Linked DNA regions of Homo sapiens: region 1 is linked to region 2. Evidence: fine-mapped expression QTL. Tissue or cell type: whole blood. Region 2 holds a variant in brackets; the other region holds the start of a gene. All regions are shown on one strand. Distances are from middle to middle. Region 1 holds the start of TMEM106B (transmembrane protein 106B). Region 2 has its middle 48 kb from the start of TMEM106B.

Evidence for each region. PIP is the estimated chance that this variant, and not a neighbour inherited with it, causes the effect.
Region 1: it holds the start of TMEM106B, and the variant in region 2 is fine-mapped to the expression of TMEM106B in whole blood (INTERVAL, PIP above 0.99).

The regions. Positions count from the first base shown.
Region 1 is chr7:12,208,899-12,214,287 of GRCh38, forward strand. It overlaps TMEM106B (transmembrane protein 106B), which reads left to right and starts at 2,396. Exons shown (of 8, transcript NM_001134232.2): 1 at 2,396-2,527. RefSeq lists enhancers at 1,795-1,944, 2,078-2,596, 2,155-2,204, 2,597-3,113 and a silencer at 2,385-2,694.
Region 2 is chr7:12,256,363-12,261,751 of GRCh38, forward strand. No RefSeq gene overlaps it. Among named protein-coding and RNA genes, the nearest start is that of TMEM106B, 48 kb to the left of the region's middle. The variant C/A (reference allele first, on the strand shown) is at 2,323.

The DNA.
Region 1 (5,389 bases), 47 kb before region 2:
AGTACAACCTAGAGAAATCCCTTAGCTTCAGCATCATACTAAATATAACCAGAAATCATTAAGAAAGAATGTTCTTCTATTCAAACTTATCCCAGACTGTTAAAATTACTGGCCTTTATATCTGATAGCACCTAGACCACTACTGAACTCGGAACTCAAGAAATCACTGTTAATCAAATAATTGGAAGCTTTTCAGAAAATTTTCCTTTCAAAATGTGCTTCAATGAAAAATAAGGCATAGGAACAAATGTACCAAACATTCAATATCTGTCTTTAAAGTACTTCCTTGTTATATGGATGATAAATTTGTAATCATAATATCTAATATTTACTGATTGCTCTGCAGGTATCAGCTCCCATCCATAACCCTTTGAGACAGACATTATTACTATCTTCATTTTGCAGATAATAAAAATTAGGTATAAAGAAGGCTAAGTATTTTGCCCACTCTTACAGAGATTTTGTATATCTCTGTCAGGCTGGGCTCATTTTCAGGCCATATGGCTCCCAAGGCTGTGTTCCCAACCCTGCTACTGAACTGCTTCTTACAGCAACATTCTCCCAGGAAGACTTATTCCTATGTGAATTCCAGGAATTTGGATAAGGAACTGTGCTATATGGCCAGCACGTTTTAAGTTAAATGATGAGGTTGAGAAAATACTAAATACTCCCTTAAGAATTAAAGAAAAAAGTAACTTTTTCACTTAAGAATAATATATATTACATTATAGAACCATTTGCCTATTTAACAATAATAAAGAAAAAACATCCATGCTCTCAAACTACAGGCAACTGTTTATATTTTGTATATTTCTTTCCATTTCAAGGCAGATATGTAATATATTTATATCTATATGTTATCTATATGTGAATATAGTTTACATCCTATTACAATACCTCATATCCTATACTTTGCATCCTGATTTTAATTTTATATCACTCCGCGTATAACAGCCTTATAAGATGGTTTTTACTGGCTTTATAAAAACTCAATAGATGGCTATTCCATAATTTTAAAAACTCAGTAATTCCAAGGGGAACATCATATCTCCACAGGTGGACTGTCAATAATTTTGAGAAAAATTTTCCCCCATGATTCTGATTTGTTTTAACCAACCTATTAATTTTGAAATTTCAAACAGTGTTAATGGAAGACACCCTGACCCTTCCCTTTGGAAAATATGGGCTAAATAAAAGCGGTTGAAAAATAATGATTTTATCAATGTCCCTTGTTGGACATTCAGTTTATTTAAATGGATACACCTCATACCCAAATCTTTTTAGAGTTCTCATTAGGTTTAGGATACTTCTGAAAGGGTGGAATTGCTGGACCAAACGATGTGAACATTTTAATAGTCTTGATACATACTGACTGTCTGCCAGAAAACTTAGGAGTTTTAAATCTCCGACAACATTGTATGAGAAAGCTCATTATCTCACATATGGATCTACAGTAATCCTCTTAAATTGTATATCGTTCTGACTTGTATTTCCTACTTTTACATAGCTTCATTTCCCAATTCCTGTTAGAATTCCCTGATTCTAACAGGATCACACTGATCCTGTTAGAAGAGAGAAATATATGACTCTCACTTCCTTGCTCCTGTGACTGTAAGAATGCCTACCATTCATTAAACGTTAAACTCTCCGCAGGAATGAGACTAGAGTGCCCTTAATATTATTACCGGCATCTCATTGATCCCTCAAAACGACTCCTTGTCGTTGTTCTTATCTTCTAAGTGAAATGACCTAGACGTTGGGGGAGGGCAGCCCCAACCCACAGCGAAGAGCTTAAGTACTGGGATCCGAGACGGGATTTCACACACCTGTAACTAGCACCAGAGTTAAGGGGTGGGGAGGGGCAGCGTGGGCAAAGCGAAACGAAACCGAGCAAAAACAAAAACTACGGCCTTGCCGCTTGCTGTCTCCTTCTAGTTGGCCAGTTTCTAAATTAAAATAGAGGTAGCTTTGCTGCTGTCAGCGGCGTGTGTACGGACCAGTTTATTCCATTCCTAAGGACCAGACTGTCAGCGACAACTCGCATTGCGTGAGCGAGGAGGCTGCTCAGCTGAAAGCTGAGGCAGATGGTGCACATTTATACCCTTTGCAAAAGGAAATGGTCTGATATGGGAAATAGGAGGAGCGACTGTTCCTAGGTAATTCGTGGCTACAGTGGACACTTTGAAGTCTGGGGGACGCGAAGGTAATGAAACCTGAAGAGCGCACAATCTCACACGATCGACGCCTCTGGGCTCAAACAGGAGGAAGAAGGACGCATGCGTCACGCGCACGCCAGGGGTGTCCCTCCGGGAGCGCTCTGCGCAGGCGCGGACGCAGGTTACAGCAGCGCTTGGCCTCTGCTGATGCCGTCGTTATCCTACCCCTCCCCCGTCCCAGCTCTACGGCGGCCGCGCGCTCCAGGCCGGTCGCTCCACCCCCCGGCTCCCGGGACTGTGGACTCCACGACCCTGTCCTCGGCCCTGTCCGCGCCGAAGCAGCCCGGGACTGCGCAGCGCCCCGCGTGCCGGTGAGCGACCCCGGACGTGCAGTCCCCAGGTCCCCTTCCGGAGCGAGGCTGAGCGGCTGCGCCGCGGCTTGAGCCGGGCCTGACAAGGAGGGGAGGCCGCTGGGGTGCTGGGCCAGCCGCAGGTACGGCGGCGGTCAGGGCTGGTGATCGAGTTGCTGTGTCGCCTCTAATGAGGCCCAGCCAGGGAACACTCGGCTTCGGCCCAAGCCCTACCTCTGGGTTGCCTCTAGGCCCTCACACCTTGAGCGCCAGGTGGCCCTCTTCCTTTTGCTGTTGATGAATGTTCTTGCCGTGGTGCCGGGATCTTATTTTGCAGCTTTACAGAGTAGGCTTTGTGCTAGGTGTTGTTTATGGAGCTTTTCAAAGGCGCTTGTTTCCTTAGTTCTCAAGCCCTTTTAGAACTAAAACCAGTGTCTACACAGAAGATCAGGAGCCATTTAAATTGGAGTGCTGTGATATATTTTTTCTCTCCAAACTGAGTCTGATATCCATGTTGACTTTCAGTAAACTAAGGAACCGCTATAATAAATAACACTGAGCCCACAGAGGTTGCAGAAGAGGGTCTAGCACCCCTTTTTTAAACCATTGAGTCTCCCAAGAATAAAAGTGGTTACACTTGTCAGTTCTCTAAGGAAAATCTAGTAGAGAAGGCAAGGGATTCCCAGTTTCTCACAGAGTCTGGCACTTGTCCAAACACCTACCCTAAAGCAGAATCGATCATGGCAGCTATTAGATTAGGACAGAAAACAGGCTCAAACGGAGAGCCACTTGAGTCTGCCTTTCTGTGTCTTTTTTCTCAACGCGCTCCAGTTAAGATGCAGCTTACAGCCTGGCTGTGTTGACTGAGATCCCAGAAAGAGTGCCCTTAAGGCCTTGCTGATAAGGCCCAATGATCCCAATTCATCTAGTGTTCCGCATAGACCCCAAGGTTACAGTGTGTGGGGACAGTGATGTTAAGTCTTCCCTATCCTACCTGTGGCTGACAGGTGTTGATTAAGACAATGATTTTTTAGAAGTCATAAATCATTTGTATTTTTGATGTGGGCAGTGATTTTTATAAATACATAGTTTTTTTTTTTTGAAAGAGTGAAAATCTCATTTTACATTTGTTTGCATACCATTTGTATAGTTTTTTAAATTCTGTTTATTTGAGTGACAGCAACAAGTGGATGGCATGCGAATTTTATTTATTTTTTTATCTTTGTATTTATTTTGTGTATATTCATGGAGTACAAGTGCCATTTGCTACATTGATACACAACATCCTGGTGAAGTCAGAGCCCTTAGTGCATCCAGCACTGGAGCAACACACATTGTACCCACCAAGCAGGCTCCTATCAGGCATGCCAGTTCTAGAAAGTAAAATTTTCTTCATACTCTAGGATGAACTGACTTACTTGGAATGTCTGTTTTGTTTAATCAAATAAGTGAGAATTTTTGAAAGAAATACTATCTGTCTGAATGTATGTAATCTATTTTTAGGAACCGCTAAAAGACATATCAAATTTAGAAGGAGTATAATTATGTTATTTTTCAGTTTTACTTTTTCACTTTATTTTTTCTCAGGATATAAGCAGGAAAATACCAGCAGGGTGTATTATATGACTGTTAAGTTCTTTTCAGCTTTAAAAGGGTATGACCTTAAGTATAAAGTTACTTCATTATCTACCTGCAGAAGTTATTTTTGTGTAGGCACTAGTACTAATTATTTATTTCTACTTAGATTTTTACATTTGTATTGTTATTTTGATACTCTTATCCTAAAATTTTTGAAGTTAGTGTTCTAAATTTTGCTGCTTTGTATTGGTAACTTATATTTAATATTTTGGAACATTGGCTTCATAATTTTAACTGTCAACTGTTGAATGAAAAAAAAACTGTGATTTTGGAATTTTGGGGCTTTTTATTGTTGTTGCGAGTGTTTAAATGTTTAAAGCAAGAAATTTAAGGATGGAAAAGAGTGGTGATTGTATTTATCACAAAGGTGCGTGAATTTTCAGAGGCTGAAACGTACTACTTTGAAGTTACTTGGTGATATACATCAAATACCTAGTTATCGTCTACCCAAAGCAATTTTTGCCTTTAGTGCTAACTAGTTAAAAGGTAGAATGTATTTTTATTTTATTTTAAGAAAAATGAAACCTGCATGTTTCTTTTCAGAGAACCTGCAGGTGTAGACTTTTGTCAAATGTTAATGTTTGAAAGCCCATTCTCATCATAAGCATGATAGGACATCATTTCACATTATTTGTTTAAAAAAACACTTCTGGACTCTAGTAAATGGCTCCTTTGTTTCAGACATTATTTTGATTGGATATAATCCTAATCCAAAAGGTATAATCCAAAAGGTAGTTTGAACATTCTCTTAATGTTTGTTCTGTAAACCAAAAATAAAATTCTGAGCCCCCCAACTAAGTGGAACCCGCTTCTCTGTCAAGGGCATTCCAAAGTAAACCTAAAAAGGTAGTTCAGGCCATGATGAAAAGGTGGGTGGAGGGGATTGAACATGCCCCGTTGTACCTTCCTCTCTTTGGAATTCAGGCACAACTGACCAGCATCAATTAAAACAGAGATTTGAAGACTAACAAGAGTCTCTTTGTAGCAATAAGATATCAAATCCCAACCTGACTCTAATATAGAATCACTCGACAGATAGCAGGCCCTGAGAGAAATTGAAATATCTTACCCCAAAATATATTTCTTTGAAATGGCCTTGCAAAGCTGTCTCTCGTGGGGAAGATCCACATTCTGTACAGAATCCCCTTTCCTTTCCAGATCTTTTCCTAATTCAGCAGCGATTTAACCAAGAGCCTGGAATATTTTAAGGAGTAATAAGAGACATTTACAAACTATTCTCTCTGA
Region 2 (5,389 bases):
TTTTAGGTGGGCCTATTGCCAATCAAAGATTACCTTTAGTAGCTCATCTTGTGGCTAGATATGGCATATGATTAAATCTAGGTCAATAATATGCAGGCGGAAGCATAATATGAGACTCATGAGTAGTGATGAAAGAAAAAGGGCCTGCTCTTATGTCAATCATCTTCTCTGTTGCCTCGAACCCAGACTTAATGATGGGATCTCTAACAGGTTTTTCAGACTATGAAGTAATTATAAACTTGGAAACAACACTGAAAGTGATGAAGCACATGATAGAATTCCCAGTCTTTGTGACACAGTGAAGCCTCTCTACTGGTTTTAGATTTCTTAGCTTCAGACATTTTTTAAGAAAGAGAAACTTCTATCACATTTAAGCAAATATTATGTTTGACATTTCTGTTATATGCAGCTGAATCTGACAGAATCCTAAATTTTCTTTCAAAGAAGATTAATAATTTTTAAAATACACATGTGCTCAATATATATCTGATACTGGCAGCATGTTAAAGAGGAGGAAGTGATCAGCTTATTCTAATGTAGTTGATGGTATCAAGTATAATGAATACTGAGAACCAACCACTGGATCTAGTAATGTGAAGATCATTGCTTGCTTTGAAAAGAACAGTTTTTAATAACTATTGACGAAAAAAGGAGACATGAAAGGAGCCAAAACACATTTGAAGTAGGTTTAACAGAGAATGGGAAGAAAGGATTTGCAGAAGAGGATCTACACAAGTCATTTAAATAATTTTGTTGCAAAAGTGATAAATAAAAGGAGAAAGCAACAGAGGAAATGGGATTAGAAGGTATTTTAAAAGAAAAAATAAAAGCATTGTTGCATGACCGTAGGTATGATCAAGGAAGAGAAGGAAATATTGCTAACGCAGAGCCTAGACCAACTGGGAGGGATGTGATATAGAGCCCAGAGGAGCAATCACTTCAAATGGGAACATGGATGGCTCATTTATAGGCCCAAGTGGGAAGGCAAAAGTTGTGAGTGGGAATGGTGGTAAGTGAGTACAAGTCGTGGTGGAAGACTATGCCACTTATGTATTGCTACAGTTTTTAAGAAATATAGGAAGCAAGGCCATTGGCTAAGAGTGATGATAGAGGAGATTTGGAGGTGTGAGAAGAGAGTCTTTTAAGGGGATGCTTCCCAAACTTAAATACACTATGCAGAAGAATCTCCTAGTATCTTGATAAAACTCAGGTTCGTATTCAGTAGGTCTAGGATGGGGTCTGAGATCTGTATTTCTCAGAATATCTAGGTAATATCAATAGTGTTGGCCCATGGGCTACACATGGAGTAGCAAAGTTCTATGAGAAATGAGAAAGTTGAGTGAATCAGGAAAGTACTGAGTGCGTAACAGCATTAAACATCTACTGGAGTTCATTGCTGTTAACTGAAAGTGAAACTAATCAGAATATTTGTGTGTTTTGTTCCAACTACTCTGGGCTTAAATGAGGCCAAATGTGGCTGGAAGTGAAAGTGAAAATGATGAAGGAAGAGAGATATGAGTCAAGGGTGTGTGCACTGGAGAGGTTATAATTGGTAAATTTAAGCTGGGTTAGGAGGGAGAAGTGTTACAGAGTGAATATATCCTGCCGCAACTCATTTGTTGAAGCTCTAACCCCCAGTGCAATGGAATTTAGAGGTAAGGCCTAAGGGAGATAATTAGAGCTAGATGGGGTCATGTAAGTGGGTCCCTCATGATGAGATTAGTGGCCTTATAAATAGAGTATGAGAGAGACCTCTCCTCTCTTTACCCAAAAAAAAAAAAAAAACAAAAAAAAAAAAAAAAAATATCAGTGCACCCAGAAAAGATCTTTGCACTGAGGAAAGATCACATGAGGACACAGCAAGAAGGCAGCTGCCTGCAATCCAAGAGACAGCTGTCACCAAAACCTGAATTGGCTGGCACTCTTGATCTTGGACTTCCCAGCCACTGGGACCATGAGAAAATACATTTCTGTTATTTAAGCCACCACACTTCGTTATGGCAGCTTGAGCAGACTAGTAACGAAGGAGACGGAACAACAAGAAGGTAAGGGTCAGTAAAAACAGATTCGTGAAAAAGGTGATGTTGAAATTTTTGTGATGAGGAGACTAGATAATGAGATTATAGTTGGGGAGGATACCAGGTACTGACAATGTCAAGGTCTAGGATGTGACCATGAGACTGAGTGGTTGAATTAGGGTGGAAGACAAGCTTTGGGGAAGAGGGGAGTTCAAGAAACAGAGGCGCCCACATTTAAAAGGACTATTCATGTTCTCATCAAAACCTGAAATAAAGAAGAGAATGACAGTGAGTCAGGGGCTAA[C/A]AGTTATAGTGACTGATGTAACTGATGATACTTTCAAAGATGCAAGTTTCAAAGAGAAGAGGTAATAATGTGCTAGAAATGACAACAGTAGATACCTTTTGCTGAATGCCTTCTAATACAAGTTAAGCACTCTGTAGACATTGTGTCTGTTCATTCACAAATAACATCACCATTCACACCATTCATCACCATTCATAAATAAAGAATCTGAAGTTCAGAGAGGTTAATTAACTTTCCTAAGGTCACACAACTAGTAAGTGGATGTACTATGGTTTCAGAACCAATCAGTTTGAATCTAAAGGCCCCATGATGGATAAGCTGCTTATTTTAAAGTTTTTTTTCCTTAATAGTTTTTACATATCCAGAAGCAAAAGCAAGAAAACATTTTTCAACAGTTTCATCTCCTCAAAAATAAACAGAAACTAGAGCTAGAGCTAAAAGCCTATTTCTTTCTTCTTGTTATTCAAACCACACTCACTTCATACTACCTCATACACTTCAGTCTGTGATATGATACATAGTAGGTCTTCCAGACTTTAAAGTTTAATGTTCCACCTTTGTGATTTTTGTCATTTCTACTTACTTCCTAAACCCAAATTCTACCTGATTTAGCTTTCTCCTAGGGAATGATATCTATCATACCACAGTTTAGTGGGGAAATAATATTATTTTAAAATGCAGTGAAATATATAACTAGTAAAGTATACTTGTGTACAGAGAAAAATCAAGTTCTATCTCACTGGTAGCAAGCATATCAAATTTGGGGAAATTCAGGGATGGAGGCTATGGCATCGGGCTAGAAGTCAAAAGGCTAGAGTTCCGGACTAGCTCTTCCACTTATGGAGCTGTGCACTTGCAAAATATGCAGACTTTCAAAGCCTCTGGTCTCTGGAATGGATTTAGCACAATCTTGGCACATTGTATATTTTTCAATAAATATTAGCAAATATATCAATAATTTTCATGTCACCCACTGGTTACTTATAATCCCTCAAATATTTTGCCTCTTCTTTGTATCTCTGGAAGGAGATGAAATAGCCTTTCAACTACAGGTTTTCTAAAAGCTGGGTGTGCACTGTTTCTGCTATGCTACAAGAAGGTGAAACCATATAACTCAAAAGAAAGAGACAATCCTAAGAAAAATGAGTTAATTTCATAAACCTGAGTTGTAATTCTCAGATGCAGAATATTAAAAAGCCAACACTTTCTGTAAGAGCTTTCAGGACTCCAGGGGAAGCTTGATCTGTCTAATAAACTATAATGATAATAACCAAGCATACCTCACAGGGGTACTAAGCTTTAATGACTCAATACTCGTGGAACCTTTTGAGCACCTCCAATGTTATGTAAGCATAAATGAATAAGTAGGGACATTATATACCATTGTTATTTCTGCATTAAATTTATCTTGATAATTTCTTACAATATCTTATAAGGCAGGCACTGTATGAGACTAATACATGAACAAAGATATGAAAGAAATATAATATATAGTAGTGCTTTCCAATGAAATAATTATACTCTTATATTAGTGAAAGAGAATGGGGTCATTAATTGTACCTCTAAAAAGTCATTCCTCGATTGTAAAGAAGGCAAATGAGAATCTGGAATAGACACTTAAGATATAAATGTCTATAAAGAGTTTGAAAAAACACTTGCTATTTTTTTTTCCTATGGAAGAGACATCTAAGTTTTTAGATGCATTTTTTACACTGAAGAAATTTTAATGATTCTTTCACTGTTTAAGTTATAACTTCATAAAAATTTCATACATTTTTATATATCTTTCATCTTGCCTTTCTATCCTCTCCTCCATAGCATCTCTGTGCTATGATAGTACTTTAATGTCCTAGTTTAACAATAAATCCTCGCAACCCTATATATGTTTGTCATATTTTCCAAAACACACAACTGTAATTGTTATACTGTCCTGAATTTCAACTGAGGTAGCTAAGCATAGGATACAATGACACAAGCAATCTCTTCAACAAACTTTGGTGTAATACCTGGATCTCCATCAATGAAAGAGTCATTTTTGTCAGAAAATATCAACCTTTAAAATGGAAAATCCCCTGAAAGAATTCTACTGAGGAGACTGCTCTTCTCACCCTTGCCTTTTTTCTTCTACCTAGCTGACATCATTTTCCTCAAGACAAAGGGAGTTTGTAAGGGTGAGAGGAGAGAAAAAATAATCAGTCATCTCTTCATGAGGAGAGTAATTCTGGGTGTGACAATTCTGTACCAAGGTTTGAGCAGATTTCACTTCCTGAGACAGGACAGGGGATGTTGGGAGGTGGGAAGACATCAATACTAAATCCACATGCTTCCCATTCTTCCTAGGAGCAGACAAGATTGGCAATAAGCAGCAGAGTCACATGCCTCCAGTACCAAGATCATATTTTCCATTTACTGAATATTATTCTCAGTATTCTGGGTCAAGGTCCAGAACTTTCATGCACAGTTAATTGTATTTTACGTGTCAAACACCCTAAATTTTGTCCCTCCGGTAGCATTGTTATCAATAGAACTCAGACCTGGACCAGAAGGGGCTGTGCCTCAGCAGCTGCTAAAGCTGCCTTTCACCACATACTCCCCACAGGGCCAAGGACATGTGGCCACTCAGAGCCTGTGCTCCACCTTGTAGACCATGACATGGGTACCTGGGACTCTGGATGGCTGTTCCAAAAGCCCCAAGCCCACTTCCCAGCTCTGTGGGGCTCTTTCCTGAAGTATCTCTTTCTGCTGAGTTGCCGGCAGGGTGTGTCCAGGGTGAACCACAATGGTGTCAAGAAACAGCCGTGTGTTCTCATTGTTCAATTCCCACCTATGAGTGAGAACATGCAGTGTTTGGTTTTTTGTCCTTGTGAGTTTGCTGAGAATGATGGTTTCCAGCTTCATCCATGTCCCCACAAAGGACATGAACTCATCATTTTTTATGGCTGCATAGTATTCCATGGTGTATATGTGCCACATTTTCTTAATCCAGTCTATCATTGTTGGACATTTGGCTTGGTTCCAAGTGTTTGCTATTGTGAATAGTGCTGCAATAAACATACATGTGCTTGTG